2 linked regions of the Homo sapiens genome follow. The protein of the gene in region 1 interacts with the protein of each later gene in a pairwise test. Each region holds a gene or a part of one and is shown on either strand. Other genes may lie near its edges.

The links.
Region 2: the proteins of APOBEC3A (region 1) and HAGH interact in binary tests that used the Homo sapiens proteins (3 or more experiments, as listed by UniProt).

What each region holds. Positions count from the first base shown.
Region 1 is NC_000022.11:38,952,814-38,961,633, reverse strand, and holds the start of APOBEC3A (DNA dC->dU-editing enzyme APOBEC-3A), read right to left. Parts: upstream 4,026-8,820; 5' UTR 3,943-4,025; coding exon 3,914-3,942; intron 2,093-3,913; coding exon 1,948-2,092; intron 248-1,947; coding exon 1-247.
Region 2 is NC_000016.10:1,809,826-1,817,789, forward strand, and holds part of HAGH (hydroxyacylglutathione hydrolase, mitochondrial isoform 1 precursor), read right to left. Parts: intron 7,447-7,964; coding exon 7,343-7,446; intron 7,170-7,342; coding exon 7,068-7,169; intron 9-7,067; coding exon 1-8. UniProt on the Homo sapiens protein: Thiolesterase that catalyzes the hydrolysis of S-D-lactoyl-glutathione to form glutathione and D-lactic acid.

The DNA of each region.
Region 1 (8,820 bases):
GCAGTGCCTCCTTATATAGGGGGTCGTAATCATAGATGCGGGCAGCGAAGATACGCAGTCTCACGTGTGTGTTCTCCTGAAGGAACGCACGCACTTCCCCGGCACAGCCCCAGGAGAAGCAGGGGCTCCAGGAGATGAACCAAGTGACCCTGTAGATCTGGGCCGGGTCCAACTGCAAAGAAGGAACCAGGTCCAAGAAGCGCAGCTCCGCATGGCGGCCGTAAAAGCCACAGAGAAGATTCTTAGCCTAGAAAAGGAAACAGAGTGTGAGGTGATGTGTGGTGAACAGGGAGGGAGCGCCTGGACCAGGTGGGGCTGGGGAGGCGGGGGCCTCCAGCACGAAATTAGAGGGGTCACCAAAACCCCGGTTATTAGGATGCATGATTTTCTATGCAATATTAAAAATATCAGATGTTATGCAAAAATCCCAAGATAAGCAAAATGTTGCCCATTTAAATACAAACAGATCAGGAGCAATGAGGTTTTATTTTGCCCCAGCTCCACTATACACAGGACAGCACTCTCCTGCCAGGCTTTATTAAAATCTTTGCTTTTATTCATCATGATCTATTTGTATTAAATTTGCGTTTTAAAATATTGCATTAATTATTAAATTAAAATGTGTTTTCTCTAATTACTGAGCATTTGGAGCCCCCATCAATTTTGTACCCAAGGTCAGAGCCTTCAGGACCCTCACCCCAGACCCAGCCCTGCAGGGAGGGGCTACAGAGATGGGGGCAGGGAGGAGGGGCCGGCGGAGCCCCGAGGTCATTGGCCTGATGGCCCTGAGTGAGTGTGCTTCCTTCAAGGGGAGATTGACCTGCTCTACTCATCAACTCCCCTACTCCCATCCCATCTGTGGCCCATAATTCTAGAAGCTTCTATTCTGTGCCACAACCTGTGCTGAGCCCAAATGTGATATAGACTTAGGCCAAAATGAATTCCACCAAAAGTAGTGGGGAAGAGAAGACCAGCAGGACTCACTCCAACGTGGGAAGGTCCCTGTGACATGGTATAATTGTCATTATTTTGACTTATAGAAATATGGTATTTACTCCAAACTCCAGAGAAAAGGATTTTCCACTAAGACTAGGAATCGGTCAAGTTGGGGACAGCAGGGCAGCAAGGACTGTGATTGTGATGGGGACAAAGACAGGGAGGGACTCCATCAGCAGTGATGCAGGGTGGAGTGGATGACATGGTTTGTGCTGAGAAGGGGCTGTGGGTCGTTCCTGGGGGAGTCCCACTGCTTAGGCGGTGATGGAGACTGGCACCCTTGAAAGGATGTTCCAAGCAGTGTGTGTGGATCCAGCGAGGCCCACATTGAGCTCATAGAGCCCAGAGAAGGTCCCAGTTTCCAGCACCGGAGCCAAGCATTACCTGGTCTCTCCAGACAGAGGCTGTGCTGGGTAGGGGCCAGGGAAGAAAGTCCCCCGGGCTCAGGGCCCCTCAGCCTGGCCTGGCCCAGCTCCTCCCCAAATGCTGGACATCCCTGCATCCTGACATGGGACCTGTTCTGGCCTTGCTGTGGGCTCCACCCTGGGCAGGACAGGATCCCTGGTCAGCCTCTCCTGCCTCAGTCTCTCTCCGTGCAGGATGAAGCCCAGGAGAGGGCACTGGGGCATCCTGGCCTTGTGAGGTCAGGTAGGCCCTGAGTCCTCAGATCCCACATTGCTGAATTGTTCCTGGTGAGAGCTGTGTCTGTGAGGGGATCCTGGGAGGGTCCTCAGGAAGCACTTTGCCATTGGGCAGACTCAACCCCACCTGGGCATGGATAGTCACTGAAGCCGAAGTCTCCCCCCAACCCCAGGGCCAAGCAGCAGCAGCTGCAGGAAGCACAAGTGACAAACACTGCAGGAAACCACAAGTACAATCCGGAACCTTCTACCTATGAATGTCCCTGGATTGGAAGGGCCCTGCCCGGATTCGGATGGCTGGGTCGGTCACCTGGTTGTGTAGAAAGCCCCTGTGCTGGTCCATCTTGACCGAGGTGCCATTGTCCAGGCGCTCCACTTCGTAGCACAGGTAGGTCTTATGCCTTCCAATGCCATTGTTAAAGTTGGAAGTGAATATGTGTGGATCCATCAAGTGTCTGTGGACAGCCAGGGAAAAGACCAGAGGAGGAAGAGCCCTCCTGGACTGCCCTGCCTCCTCCTCCCTCCCCACACTTCCTCCCTTGCACCCCACCCTCCTTCCCCCTGCTCCGCACATCCCTTAGCACACTTCCAAACCTCCCCCTCTGACCCCTTCTATGGCTCACTGGGAGATCACTGCAGCCCTGGGGCCTGTCTAAGCCTTGTCAGGGTCTCCCCAGGGTCAGCTCAGTGTGCTCAGGCCCTCCGAGGAGGACCCTGCTCCTCTCCCTGGGGTAGAGCTGGGTCTTATTCTGTGGCCTCACCATGCACCCCTGTCCTGGCTCTGCTCACCCACAGCCCCTGCTGGAGATGGACCCTCTGGGGCTTCCTCCTGCCTGCAGGGTTAACTCCTACCACACCGAGCATCGGGACAGGGACACTCCTGAGGGGGATGACTGGGGAGAGGAACCTGCCAGGGACTTCTTTTCGGGTAATTCATAGGATTTTCCACATCCCTTAGGGTGCCCTGAGGTCTCCCAAATGTGCTTCTCAGGCAATTGAGATGGGGCAGCTCAGGACTCCTGGGCTGGAAACACCAGCCCCACCTTGAAGACCTCTCCCAGCCCCTCTCTATGCATCCTGACATAATCAGAATTAGAAAAATCTCTGTTGGGAGGCAGCACAAAAGAAAGAAAGAAAGAAGGAAAGAGAAAGAAGGAAGGAAAGAAAGAAAGAAAGAAGGAAAGAGAAAGAAGGAAGGAAAGAAAGAAAGAAAGAAAGAAAGAAAGAGAAAGAGAGATGGAGGAAGGAAGGAAGGGAGGGAGGGAGGAAGGAAGGAAAAGAAAAAGAAGGAAAGAAAGAAAGAAAAAAGAAAGGAAGGAAAAGAAAGAAAGAAGGAAAGAAGAAAGAAAGAAAAGAAAGAAAAAAGAAAGGAAGGGAGGGAGAAAGGGAGAAAGAGAGGAAGGAAGGAAGAAAGGAAGGAAAGGAAAGAAGAAAGAGAGGAAGGAAGGAGGGAGGAAGGAAGTAAAAGAAAGAAAGAAGGAAAGAATGAAAGAAAAAGAAAGAAAGAAGGAAAGAAAGAAAGAGAAAGGAAGGAAGGGAGGAAGAGAGAAAGGGAAATATTGGAAGAAAGGAAGGAAGCACAGAAGGGAAGGAAGGAGGGAGGGAAGAGAGAGAAAGAAGAAAAAGAAATAAAGAAGGAAAGAGAGAGAGAGAAAGAAAGAAGAAAGAAAGAGAGAGAGAATTGAAGGAAGGAAGGAAGGAAGGAGGAAGGAAGGAAGGAAAGAAGGAAGGAAGGTTCAAAATGTTCCCCACCATTTCGAGTAGACCTGGGCATGAATCTGGGCTCTACCACTCACTTGCTCTGTGTTCTCAAAAAAAGGAAACAAGGCTTCCTCATAGCCAAGCAGTCCTACAAGCAACCCCCTTTTCTTAATATTAGGGAGAACGAGATGACACTGAACATAAAAAGGGCTTAGGCCAAGTCCAGATACATGGAACATTTGCAAGAAATAGTAGATGCTCATTTAAAGACAAGTGAGGAGAATCCCCTCTCTGACCGTCTTCACTGGCTGGGGCACAGCACCATTATCTATTGGGATTTTCAGGCTCCCTGTGCACCTGCCCCGGGAGGTGGAAGGAGACCTGGAATTGGTACCATCGGAGGAGAGACCAGCGCTGGGACCAAAACTGGGAACCTAGAGCAAGAGGCCAGGTCCAGAGAGAGGGTCAGGAGGAAAAGAGAGGCCCCAGGGGTTTGAGGGTGAGAGGTGAGTGCTCATCAGAAAAGCTCAAAGAGGAGGCTGAGGCGCAGAGGTGCTCGGAGGGGCTTCCCATACCTGGGCCCGGATGCTGGGCTGGCTTCCATGTGCTTGTCCCTTCTCGGTTCCTGGTCTGTGTCCTCCCGCTCTTGCGACTTGCTCAAGGCGTGGTGTTAAGATCTTCACCAACATTCTCTTAGGATTCAGGAGCCTTAATATATCATCAGAGCAACCTGGAAGCTGCTGAGTCAGCGATACCCTGCCCCACCCCTTCTCCAGCTCAGGCCGAGTGTGCCACCCTCATTAGCGTCAGAACAAGGAAGTTCTCTGCCATGCCTCTGGGCAAGCTTTGGTTTTGATGTGCCCACTCTGACCACTGAACCACCAGACACTGTGGAGTGACAATGGGGATGTAGAGCTGGCCACACTTTGCTCCCTGTGGGCCACAGGAATCTGGAAGGCAGGAGACCAGGGGGCAGGTGAGAAGACAGGTGTCCACACCCTGGAGAAAGACCCTGAATAACACTCAGCGGTCCAGAGAGCAGGCTCCAGGACAGCCACCCCTGTGTCCTCCCCTGTGGCCAGTGCAGGATGTGCCTGGTCCAGGCTCCCTGGCACCTGCTGCATCCTGTGCTCTCTGTTAGGGTCCTGCATCTTCTTCCCTGGCTGTGAAGATGGGAGACCAGCAGGTCCTGCATCCTCCTATGCATCAGTGTATCTAATAATTGTAAACTAGAGGGAGGAGTGTTTTCATCCCCATTACCCAGAGGAGATGCTAAAGGCTCTGAAAGGTACCTAGAGATCCAGGCCCTCCCAGGAAACAGAGTCCCCAGCAGGGACACACCCCCACCCCCCTGTCAGAAGGGCCACCCTGTGCCCTTTCTCCCACCTCTGGGCCCTGCAGAAATGTGAGGGACACTGTGCTCCTGCCCCAAGTGAGCCCCTGAGTCCTGGCGGCAGGTCTGGCGCCGTCCTTTCCCAGGTCCACCTGCTACACCCAGCACAGCTGCCCCTGGAAGGTGCTGGCCCTGTGGGCCCAGGGGCTGTCCCCTGTCCTGCCTGCTCCCCTGTTCTGGCTCTTACTAGACCCCCCTGTCTTTGGCCAGCAATCCTCCCACCTCAGCACAGTGTCCCTGCCATTTTGGTGGGCGCCACAGACTAGAAGAGGCCCTGTTCTCTGCCGTGAGGACCCCTCCCATTCTGTCTCCAGATGTTGGACTCTTCTAGTCAAGAAGATGTCCCCTGGGGGCAGTCAACTGCCATTTGAGTCTCAGGTGGTTCTGGTGTGAGCTCATCTTGGTGTGTTGTGTGAGTCTGACCAGAGGCCACCCTTCCCAGTTCACACCAGAGGCATGCACAGCTGGACGCCCCGCAGTACCCACAGCCCACCTGGGCCAGAGACCACACTTGTACCAACTTTGGGAGGATCCAACCCTTCCCCAACCCTTCCCGGTGGCTCCTGCTGCCCAGAGTGTGATGGCCTTTCCCCTGGCTCAATAATGCATCAAATGCCCCTGGAGCAAATACACCCCTGGACCCATGGTCAGGACAGCCCCCACATGAGCTTTCTATGGGGAGACCCAGGAGAGCTGCAACAGGGGACAGCGCTTTGTTCAGCATCCCTGGGGCGTCTCCTGCATCTCCTGGCTCTGGGTCCTCAGCCTTGGGTTCCAGGGTCTCCCCAGCTCACCCACCCTGGGCACGTCCTCCTCCCTGCTGCCCCAGCTGGCCCAAGCCCCACTGGATTCATGACTGGCCCATGCCTGCCTCCCCTCTCTGATCCAGACAGGTCCAGATCTTCCAGAATGTCTCCAAATCTGTAAGATCCACTTTATGGCCCATCACAGAAACAGGCACATTGTCTGTTTCTCTTTCTAGTTTTACAAACCAGTCAGGTTAGACTATCAGCACATCTGCACATCTGTGAACCTTCTCATCTGATGACAAAGAAGGCCTCAGACTAAAATGTTTAAAGCAAAGTGGGGCCCAGCTACTGTCCAGAGTTCAATTCTCAGTAACTCACTGTACAAGCCATGCACCCAGGCAGAGCTCCAGAGAGGAGAGAAGACAGGGTGTTGGGGGGTCCCCACTAGCAGAGAGGGAGGCCAGGACCCTCCCTTGCCAAGGGTGGACAGGGGGAGCCACTGGTTGGGCGTCTGCAGCCCAGACATGAGCGGGGAACAGTCTCACTCTAGCCCCTGGACCCAGGAACTTCCATAAGGGCCACAACCTGGAACCTCTGAGTGAGCTCCCCAGGGACTTATGTGCCCTACCCCCTGCCAGTGCCCCCACCGACCACACCCACATCCTTCTGTGCACTAGGGCCTGACTCTCTCCCGGCAGGAATGTCCCAGACACAACTGGCCCCTTCCTGGTCCCCCTGCAGCCAGGGCAAGGCAGGGTCTTCAAGGCATCAGGGGAACCCAGGGGTGGTTAAGAGTGTGCACCTTCCCTAGGCCAACTGTAAGGAAGACGGAAGGAGATTCCACCCTTTCCTGGGGAAGGACAGCCCCTCCCCCATTTCTGTCCCTGGAATGTTGGCTGAACAATCAATGCGATAACTGTGAAAATGTGATAAAATACCAGGTCTTGCTGGAGTTTCCATAGGATCCTGGGGAAGGTCCAAGGCGAGAGAAAGAAACTGGATCCCCAAGGGGGAGGCAGGAGAATGGCCTCCTTAACAGGTGCAAGCTTCCCTGGGCTTTGCCCAGGTCCCCTGTAAGGAAAACTGGGGACAGGGCAAGTGCCCCACAGGGGTCCAGACTGGGTGAGAGGGACAGACCAGTGCAGAGGGACCCTGAAGTGGTCCCTGATTGCTGGGCCACTCAGCCCAGGTCACCCTGGGACCAGAACGGAGGTCCCGCTCGGGTCTGGAGTCCATGCTGCTGTGTATGAGGTCCTGGCTCTGCCATCACTGTGGGGCCCCAACCCCTACAGCCCAGAGGAACCACAGGCTTCCAGTTCCTAGCCCAGGTCTGAGCATTGTCATGGGGCTGCGTCCAGTCCCCTCCCCTGGACCCACAGGGCTCCCAGGTCATAGGCAAAGCTCTGAGATGAGACCCAGGGAAGCTGGGAGTCTGAGGAGCTCGGGAGAGAAAGGGCTCCCTGCTCCTGTGCCCCGCCCCCAACAGAGTGACATGACGAAAAGGACCCTTCCTTGGGATACCCCAGACACACCCAGATGCCCACTTCAACATTGCCCGTGGAGCAGGGTGAGGGGACAGTCTCAGCGTCCACCTGCTCCTCTGGCTTTGATTCTGGGCTCTGACAACAGCCCCGCCCTCCTCAGCCTAGAAGCAAGTGATCGAAAAAACCAAAGGATCTCTCCAAGCAAAGGGGCCAAGCTCGGGGGGGCGGGGGGGACAAAGGGTGGGGGGAATAGGGAGGTGGAGGAGGTGGCTGCACCTGCCCTTGGACAGGGGACAGTGCTGTCCTCCCAGGGTGGGGCCCTCTGTCCCCCATACCCCCACTGGGGTGGCCTCTTTGCCCAGAGTGACTACATGTTGTCCATTTTTCGGTCACTTGTTTCAAGGGGTGGAGCTGGGGCTGTTGTCAGAACCCAGAAATGAAAACGAGAGGATCGGGGTTGATGACGTGGTTTCCCCAGCACTCTTCACGGTAAGAATTGCTGCAATCCTCTGACTTGGGGCAGAGCTGAGGTAGACATCTGGGTGTGTCTGGGAAACCCCGGGGAAGGTTCCTTTCTGTCCTGTCACTGTCTGTGTGTGCTTATGTGTCTGTGTGTGTCTGTGTCTTTGCCACCAGAAGGAGTTGGGCCTGTTTGCTCATGAGCAGCTGTCGAGGAGGCCCACTGTGTACCACATATGCGGCTCCTGAGGTCCTGAGGTGGAAGGTCCCTACTGCATCCACCACCCCGCGGGGCAGAGAAGGAGCCCAGAGAAGGAGGGGCGTCCCACCTCGTGGAAGGCCAGGAATCAGGAAGACCAGTGTCCCTTGTGCTAGGGCAGCACAGTGGGGTCCCTCTCTCTTTCTCCCTCACCCCCATGCTCCTGGTCAACCTCCTCCCACTCCAGCCCTGGCTGCCAGGGCCAGCCCCCCACCTTCTCTATGGGGTGGGACGCTGGTGAGCCACGTATTCACGGGAGGACCCTCAGCACAGAATGAGCCCTGGACAGTCCATGCATGTGACTGACATTGCTCACTTCACCAGCCCATCTGCTCCCTCCCTTCCTGATGCAGGCAGCAGGAGAGGGGCAGAGACACAGACATCCCAGGAGGGAAAACCTTCTGGAAGAGCCTACTTGACATGCCTGGTATCCTTGGCTCCCAGACAAGTCTGGACCACCGATCCCACATGGTAAAAAGGACCCTTCCACAAGATACTCCCAGACACAGCCAGATGCCCCATAGAGAAGGTGGTGGGCAGGTCCTGGTGGTCCCGGCCCCACCCAGTCCTCCGAGGGAAGCATCCACAGCTGTTTCTGCTCCTTGGCCTCCGACACCCCAGTGCCATCCCCGGAGGGCCTGGGCTGCCCCTGCACGGTGAGCTCCGGGCCAGTGACAGCCGGGGGCCCTGCTCTCGGCACCACCCTCTTCCAGGGGTGGAGACCCAGGCCTTGGGTCTGTGAGCTCCTAGGTCTGTTTCTGGATGCAGCTCAGCTCCCTCTGCTATGCACAGAGTAAGTGCCCAGCATGTGTGCCATGGCTCAAGTTTGGGATGTAGGAGTCTGGGCTGGGAGGAAGGGCCTGGCTTCCGCCTCTGGCTTGGGATGGAGAGGGCACCAAGCTCATGGTGTCACTCGTGTCACTTGGCCGTTCACTGGTGCTCGGCAGAGGTTCTCTCGCAGGCTCCTGTGTTTACTGTATGGTGTCTTCCGCTGTGCAGAAATTTCAAATATGGCCCAGTAAAATATATCAGGCTGTCTTCCCTTGGGCTCACATCTAAGACCATGGCTGCTCCACCCTTCCTATGTGTAGAAATTCTTACCTGTCTCTCCACGGTATGTCGCTTGTCCAGGGAAGAT
Region 2 (7,964 bases), on another chromosome or scaffold:
TACTTCTCCTGCAAGAGAAACGCACCACTTTATCACGGGAACTTCACAGGATGGCAGACCAGGCACGGAGGCTCACGTCTGTGATACCAGCACTTTGGGAGGCTAAGGCAGATGGATCACTTGAGCCCTGGAGTTTGAGACCAGCCTGGACAACATGGCGAGACCCTGTGTCTACTAAAAATACAAAAAACTAGCCAGGCATGGTGGCAGGCACCTGTGGTCCCAGCTACTCAGGGGGCTGAGGTGGGAGGATCGCTTGAGCACAGGTCGAGGCTACAGTGAGCCAAGACTGTGCTACTGCCCTCCAGCCTGGGTGACAGCGACATCACGTCTCAAAAAATGCTTCAGAACACCTCCTGGTAACCTTAGGACACTGCCCGACTGACAAGGCTGAGAAGGCAAGGTGAGCAGAGCCCGGCGGGTGTGCGCGTGTGGAAGAGGGAAGAGAAGCCAGCGTCCGGGATGAGCCACACATCCGCCTTCCCGCACCGGCCTGGAGAGGACGACAGGGACGGAGCTTCCTTTTCATTCACATGGTTTACATTTCACATTATGGAGGTAACAGCAATGCAGGAGACACAGAAAAGAAACCGCCACAGCTGCAGCCTCACAGCAAGCACGGGGAGGAGGGGCACAGGGACCAGCAGCAGGGGAGGCCACCCAAGCCCCTGCAGGCAGGCAGCTGGTCACCTCCTCTCGAGATGGAGATGGTCTCCCTTCCGACCAGCACTGACCAGGGCAGATGGGGTGGGGGCGGGGGGAGGAGAATGCAAACCCAGCCACGGGGCCAACAGTTAGCAGGAAAACACAGGGCGGCAACAGCGGGGTCTCCACACAGCCCCGGCCCTTCTACCGCAGCCGCACCAGGAGGGCCTCAGGGCAGAGCTCTGACAGAAGCTGCTGGTGCCCACGCACAGGCTCAAGACCACCGCGCCTCACCCCCGAGGTTCCCCACCCGCTATGGGCAGTGGTGTCGGTGAGTGACTCTTCAGCTGGTAGAGCTGCACCAAGCGGGGGTCTGGTAGATGCCAAGATGGTTTCTCACTAATCTGTTCTTCCCTTCTGGCGAAAAGAATCTGAGAATGTTTTAAAATATTCCCTGTGTTCCCACCAACATTCTCAATCCTAAGAAATCTCCCTCTGCCTCCTACGAGGGAAGCAAAGTTAACACTTCTAAGGAGACCTTTAAAACAGAGGAAGTACAAATTGTCATAAGCTTTTAGGTTACCTATTAAAACGAGTTTTAATGTTCTAGCTATTTTTCCTACAAAGTACGAAGCATTTAAAGACAAAAATAAGGTCAGTCAGCCGAGCGCAGTGGCTCACGCCTGTAATCCTAACACTTTGGGAGGCCGAGGTGGGTGGATTGCCTGAACTCAGGAGTTCGAGACCAGCCTGGGCAACACGGTGAAACCCCATCTCTACTAAAATAGAAAAAATCAGCCGGGTGTGGTGGCGGGTGCCTGTAATCCCAGCTACTGGAGAAGCTGAGGCAGGAGAATCACTTGAACCCAGGAGGTGGAGGCTGCAGCGAGCCAAGACCATGCCACTGCACTCCAGCCTGGGCAGCAGAGCAAGACACTGTCTCCCAAAGAAAGAACAACAGGCCGGGCGCGGTTGCTCACACCTGTAATCCCAGCACTGGGGGAGGCTGAGGCAGGTGGATCACCTGAGGTCAGGAGTTTGAGACCGGCCTGGCCAACATGGTGAAACCCCGTCTCTACTAAAAATACAAAAATTAGCCAGACGTGGTGGCACATGTCTGTAATTCCAGCTACTTGGGAGGCTGAGGCAGGAGAATCGCTTGAACCCGGGAGGCGGAGGCTGCAGTAGTGAGCCGAGATCGCACCACTGCACTCCAGCTTGGGTGACAGAGTGAGACTCTGCCTCAAAAAAATAAAAATAAAAAAATAAGGTCAGTCCTTGCAGCACAGCTCAGAAGAGCTCCACCTCGTGTGGGTTCTGGACTCCAGGGTGCAAAAGGAGTTGAAAACTCTCAACGTCCCTCCTATGGGGATTGGTAAAATGATTTATGGGTGACACCCACGCAATAGTATATTTTACACCTATCAAAAAGAATGAGGCCGGGTGTGGTTGGCACATGCCTGTAATCCCAGCACTTTGGGAGGCCAAGGCAGGAGGATCACTTGAGCCCAGAAGTTCAAGACCAGCCTAGGCAACATCGTGTAAACCCCCTCTCTACCAAAAATACAAAAATTAACCAAGCATGATGGCACAGGCCTGTAGTCCCAGGTACGGGAGACTGAGGCAGCAGAATCGCCTGAACCCAGGAGGCGGAGGTTGCAGTGAGCCGAGATTGTGCCACTGCACTCCAGCCTGGGCAGCAGAGCAAGACGCTGTCTCTCCCCAACCAAAAAAAAAAAAAAAAAGAATGACAGGCCAGGCACAGTGGCTCACGCCTGTAATCCCAGCACTTTGGGAGGCTGAGGCGGGCAGATCACGAAGTCAGGAGTTTGAGATCAGCCTGGCCAACATGGTAAAACCCCATCTCTACTAAAAATATAAAAATTACCCAGGCATGGTGGCACATGCCTGTAGTCCCAGCTACTTGGGAGGCTGAGGCATGAGAATCGCTTGAACCCGGGAGGCAGGGGTTGCGGTGAGCCGAGATCGCGCCATTGCACTCCAGCCTGGGCGGCAAGAGCGAAACGCTGTCTCAAAAAAAAAAAAAAACAAAAAAAAAACACACAAATTGTCAAAATCAGGAATGAAAGCAGGAATATCATTACAGATCCAGCAGACATTTGGGGGGTGGGAGTTCATACTAAGTTTTAAAACTATACAAATTCCAAAAATAAAATACAGGAGAAAATTTTTTGACCTTGGGATAAACAAAGATTTCTTAGATGGGAGACAAAAAAGAATGAAGCATAAAAGAATCTATTGGACTTCATTAAAATTAAAAATGTTGGCTCAAAAGATACTGCTAAGAAAACCAGAGGCCGCAGAATGGGAGGCGCCCTGCAGGAGGCGGCCTCTCACCAGGGACTGGGCTCCAGCACCTCCTTTCAAACGGCTGGCTCCACCGCGTGGGCTGGCTCCACCGTGTGGTGTGCCGAAAGACACGGACCAGCTGGTGTGCCCACGCCTTCCCAGCAGGAAAGCAAACACCACAAGCACCGGGGAAGGGGAGTTTGGCAGTTTCTTTAAAAGTCAAACACACCTCCCGTCCAGCCCGGCCACTCCCTTCTCCTGGGTGTTCACACGGGGCTGCGGCTGGGATGTCCATCCCTCCAAACGCATGCTCAAATCTGATCCCCAATTAATGGAGGTGTTTGGATCATGGGGGGAATCCTTTGTGAACGGCTTGGTGCCCTGCTCCAAGTGCGAGTTTTTGCTGTTAGTTCCCACAGGATCTGGTTGTTTAAAAGAAACTTTTGCCTCCCCCACTCTCTCCTTCCTCTGGCCACATGCTTCACACCCACCAGCTCCTTTCGCCTTCTGCCATGAGCAGAAGCAGCCTGAGGCCTCACCAGGTGCAGACGCCCAGGCCATGCTGCTTATATAGCCTGCATAACCATGAGCCACATAAACCTCCTTTTATAAGTCACCCGGCCTCAAGTATTCCTTTATAGCAACACCACACAGACTAAGACACCCAGGAAGTTAATACGCATCCACTGTATTTATAACTAGTATCAACAAATAATCATGACCAGAAGTGCTTAGGGATCCATTTAGTAACACGTGCAAGACCTTGAACACGCAAATTTCAAAACACTGCTGAGAAAAGCTAAAGACATTCATAGATGGAAAGCTCACAGAAACACTCAATGTTAAGATCGCAATTCTCGCCACATCAGTTATCACAACAGTCCCAATCAGCAGCCAGGCTAGCTTTTCTGATAGAAGTTCACGAGATGATTCTGAAAACGGAAATGTAAAAGGCTTAAAACAACTAAAACCATTTTGAAAAAGAACACTGGAGGATTCACACATACCAGTGCCAAGACTCAGCACAGAGTTACAGTCATCAAGGTGCTGTCCTCGGACACCGTGGCAAGTCATAGAGACCAACGAAACAGAGCAGAGACCAGAAGCAGACTCGGGCATAGAGGGCCCATTCTTTTCAGAAAGGTGCCAAGGCAATCCAGGGAGGAAAGGACAGTCCTTCGACAGACAGCCCTGAACACCTCGGGATCACACTGCGAGAGGGTGAACCTCTACCCTCACCTCGCACCACACACAAACACCATCTTGAAAGGGAACACTGTAAATTGTTTGTAAATATAAAAGCTAAGACTTTAAAACTTCTAGGAAGAAACACAGGAGAAAGTCTTTGTGAGCTAAGGGTATGCAAAGATATCTTAGAAAGGGCACAAGAAACATAAAAGAAAAATTGAGTAGGCCGGGCGCAGTGGCTCACATCTGTAATCCCAGCACTTTTGGAGCCCAAGGTGGGCAGATCACCTGAGGTCAGGAGTTCGAGTCCAGCCTGATCAACATGGAGAAACCCCATCTCTACTAAAAATACAAAATTAACCGGGTGTGGTGGTGCATGCCTGTAATCCCAGCTACTCGGGAGGCTGAGGCAGGAGAATCGCTTAAACCCAGGAGGTGGATGTTGCGGTGAGCTGAGATCGCGCCGCTGCACTCCAGCCTGGGCAACAAGAGTGAAACTCCGTCTCAAAAAAAAAAAAAAGAAACAAACAAAAAATAAGTAAATGGAACTTCACCAAAACTATAAACTATTTTCCAAAAGACAATGTTAAGAAAATGAAAAGGCAAGCCATGAGCTGGGAGAGAAAAACATCTTTTAAATATATATCTCAGCTGGGCGTGGTGGGTCACGCCTGTAATCCCAGCACTTTGGGAGGCCGAGGCGGGTGGATCACGAGGTCAGGAGATCGAGACCTTCCTGGATAACACGGTGAAACCCATCTCTACTAAAAATACAAAAAATTAGCTGGGCGTGGTGACGGGCACCTGTAGTCCCAGCTACTTGGGAGGCTGAGGCAGGAGAATGGCTTGAACCCGGGAGGCAGAGCTTGCAGTGAGATGAGATCACACCACTGCACTCCAGCCTGGGCGACAGAGCAAGACTTTGTCTCAAAAAACAAACAAATAAATATATATATGTATATACACACACACACACACACACACACACATATATATATATATCTCACAAAGACTTGTTTCCAGATGATATAAGGAACTCTTACAAGAGCAGCCCAACAGGCCAAACCCAATATTTAAAATGGACAAAAGATTGAACATAAACTTCATGAGAAGGCATCCAAAGGCCGACACACATGAAAAGATGGTCACATGGGGAAATCCACATTTTAAAGGCAGTGAGACGCCACCACAGGCAAGTTAGAATGGCAAAAATTGGAGAGACCGACAACACCAAGCAGTGCTGGCACAGCATGGAGGCCCCGGAACTCAAGCATTGGTGGGGGACTGTAGAACAGTACAACCATTTTTGGAAAACGGTTCACACCTTTAACCACACAACACAGCAATTCCACTCTTAGGTAGTATCCAAGAGCAATAAAAACATGTTCACAAAAGACTTGTACACAAATGTCCATAGCAGCTTTATTCAAATAGCAAAAAACTGGAAACAGACAAATGCATAAACAAATTGTAGCATTTCCACACAATGGGCTACTCAGAAGCAAAGAGCGTGGCTGACCCTCACCAACATCAGCGGGGCCGAGAATGCCACAGAGATGACGGAGCAATGAGATTCTGTTCATGGGAAACTAGAAAGTGACCTGAGGTCACAGCAGAGCAACAGCTGGCGGGGACGCCACATGGGAGGGACACAGGAGCCTTTGGGGTAGTGGTAAGTTCCACATCTGGACTGTGGAGGGGATTACACAAGTGCAAACATCATCAACATTCCTCAAACTGCAATCTGTCCACTCAAGACAGACACACGGGCCAGGTGACGTGGCTCACGCCTGTAATCTCAGCACTTTGGGAGGCCAAGGCAGGCGGATTACCTGAAGTCAGGAGTTCAAGACGAGCCTGGCCAACATGGCAAAACCCTATCTCTACTAAAAGTAGAAAAATTAGCTGGGCGTGTTGGCTGGCGCCTGTAATCCCAGCTACTCAAGAGGCTGAGGCAGGGAGAATTTTTTTTTTTTTTTTTTTTTTTTTTTGAGACGGAGTCTCGCTCTGTCACCAGGCTGGAGCGCAGTGGAGCGATCTTGGCTCACTGCAACCTCTGCCTCCTGGGTTCAAGCGATTCTCCTGCCTCAGCCTCCTGAGTAGTTGGGATTACAAGCGTGAGCCACCACGCCCGGCCAGCAGGGAGAATTTCTTGAACCCGGGAGGTGCTGGTTGCAGTGAGCCGAGATTACGCCACTGTACTCCAGCCTGGGCGACAGAGGGAGACTCCGTCTCAAAAAAAAATTAAAAAAAAAAAAAAGATGAGTATTTATGATTCATCTGATTTAGAGTTGGAATTTGCATGAGTAAATACTGTAAAATAATGTTAACCTCTACTCTAAGAAATTGAAAAAGATGCTCAAAAAACCGGGTGATTTATTTAAAACAACCCTGTCAGAGGCAGCGACTCTCACTCCACTCAGCAGAGGGAGCCCACGCCTGAGACCACCCAGGCGTGCGTGCTTGTGACACCGTTTCCAGTGAATTCGGGGAAACACACCCCTGGAGAACCCCGTCCTGCTCCTGGCAGACTTTGGCCCAGCTGGCCTGGGCTACGCCATGGAGGCTCACGTGGGGCCACCGTGGAGATAAGAGTCCTTTGGACACAGAGCCACGTTCTGTGGCCTGGAGAGCCAGCAGAGCCACGTGCTGCCAGCCTGACCCTACTGCTCAGAATGTGGGAACAGGCTGGGCGCTTTTTACACACGCAGCGTCTGAGGCCTACTCCAGACCCTCCGAGGCAGAGGGATCTCCATAGAACCCCTGGGTTTGCCGTGCAGGGCGAGCTGGGCCACACTGGCCTGAATCCCAGGCCTGCTCTCTGGGCTCAGAGTGTGAGTGTCTACCCACTCTGGCGACCCCGCTGTGCACAGCGGCCCTGAGCAGCCCACAGGAAGGCACTGCGCAGTGACGGCCCCACTCACCTTGGCCCAGGCCAGCTTCTCCCGGATGGCGGCATTGCCGGGCTCCACGTGGCGTGCAAACTTGAGGTTGTTGATGGTGTACTCGTGGCCACAGTAGACTCTCTGAGGAGAGAGGTGACAGGTGAGCTCGGAAGGCTGTTACCACCTGTGAAAGTCCTCAGGGACGGGACCTGGATGCCCCCGGGGGGTGTCCGGTGAGAGGGTGCCAGGAGGGAGAGCAGCCCCGCCCTGGTTAAGGCCCCCCACACCCCGGCCCGCAGGGAGGCGCTGCCTACTGTGTCCGGGGGGAGCCGGCCCAAGACCTCCAGCAGAGCTTTACACATCTCATCCGCAGTCCCTTCATAGAACTTCCCGCAGCCAGCCACAAACAAGGTGTCACCTGGAAACAAGGACAGCCACGAGGTGGGGGCCACTTGAGGCTGGTGGCTAGGACTCAGGAGGGGGCCAGGAGCAGGGTGACACTCACCGGCAAGGCCCAGGCCCCGAACCCTGGCTGCCCTCCGGCCACGGCTGCCCAGACTCAGCCCCCCTGCATTCCGGCTCCCACATCTCCTTCCAAGTCTCAGCTGACAGTCCAACCACCCAACTGGCCGAGCAGACCCGAAACCCAAGTCACTCCTCCCTCACTGCCCCCAATCCCACCAACTGTGGCTCTGAGACCCTCACAAATCCAGCCCTCTCCCCAAACACGCAGCAGCCCCTCTCAGGCCCATGCCTGGCTCCCATCTTCCCTTGGCCCCAGCAGCCAGCGCCACCCTGTGACCAAGGTCTCACCACCCTGGCTGAGCTGAGCGGGACCACCTCTCACCCATGGCGGAAGATGCGGCCCACACCGCTGGGCACCTCAGGCGCACCCAGGCTCCTTCCGGCCTCGGCCTCAGGACGGCATCCCCACCC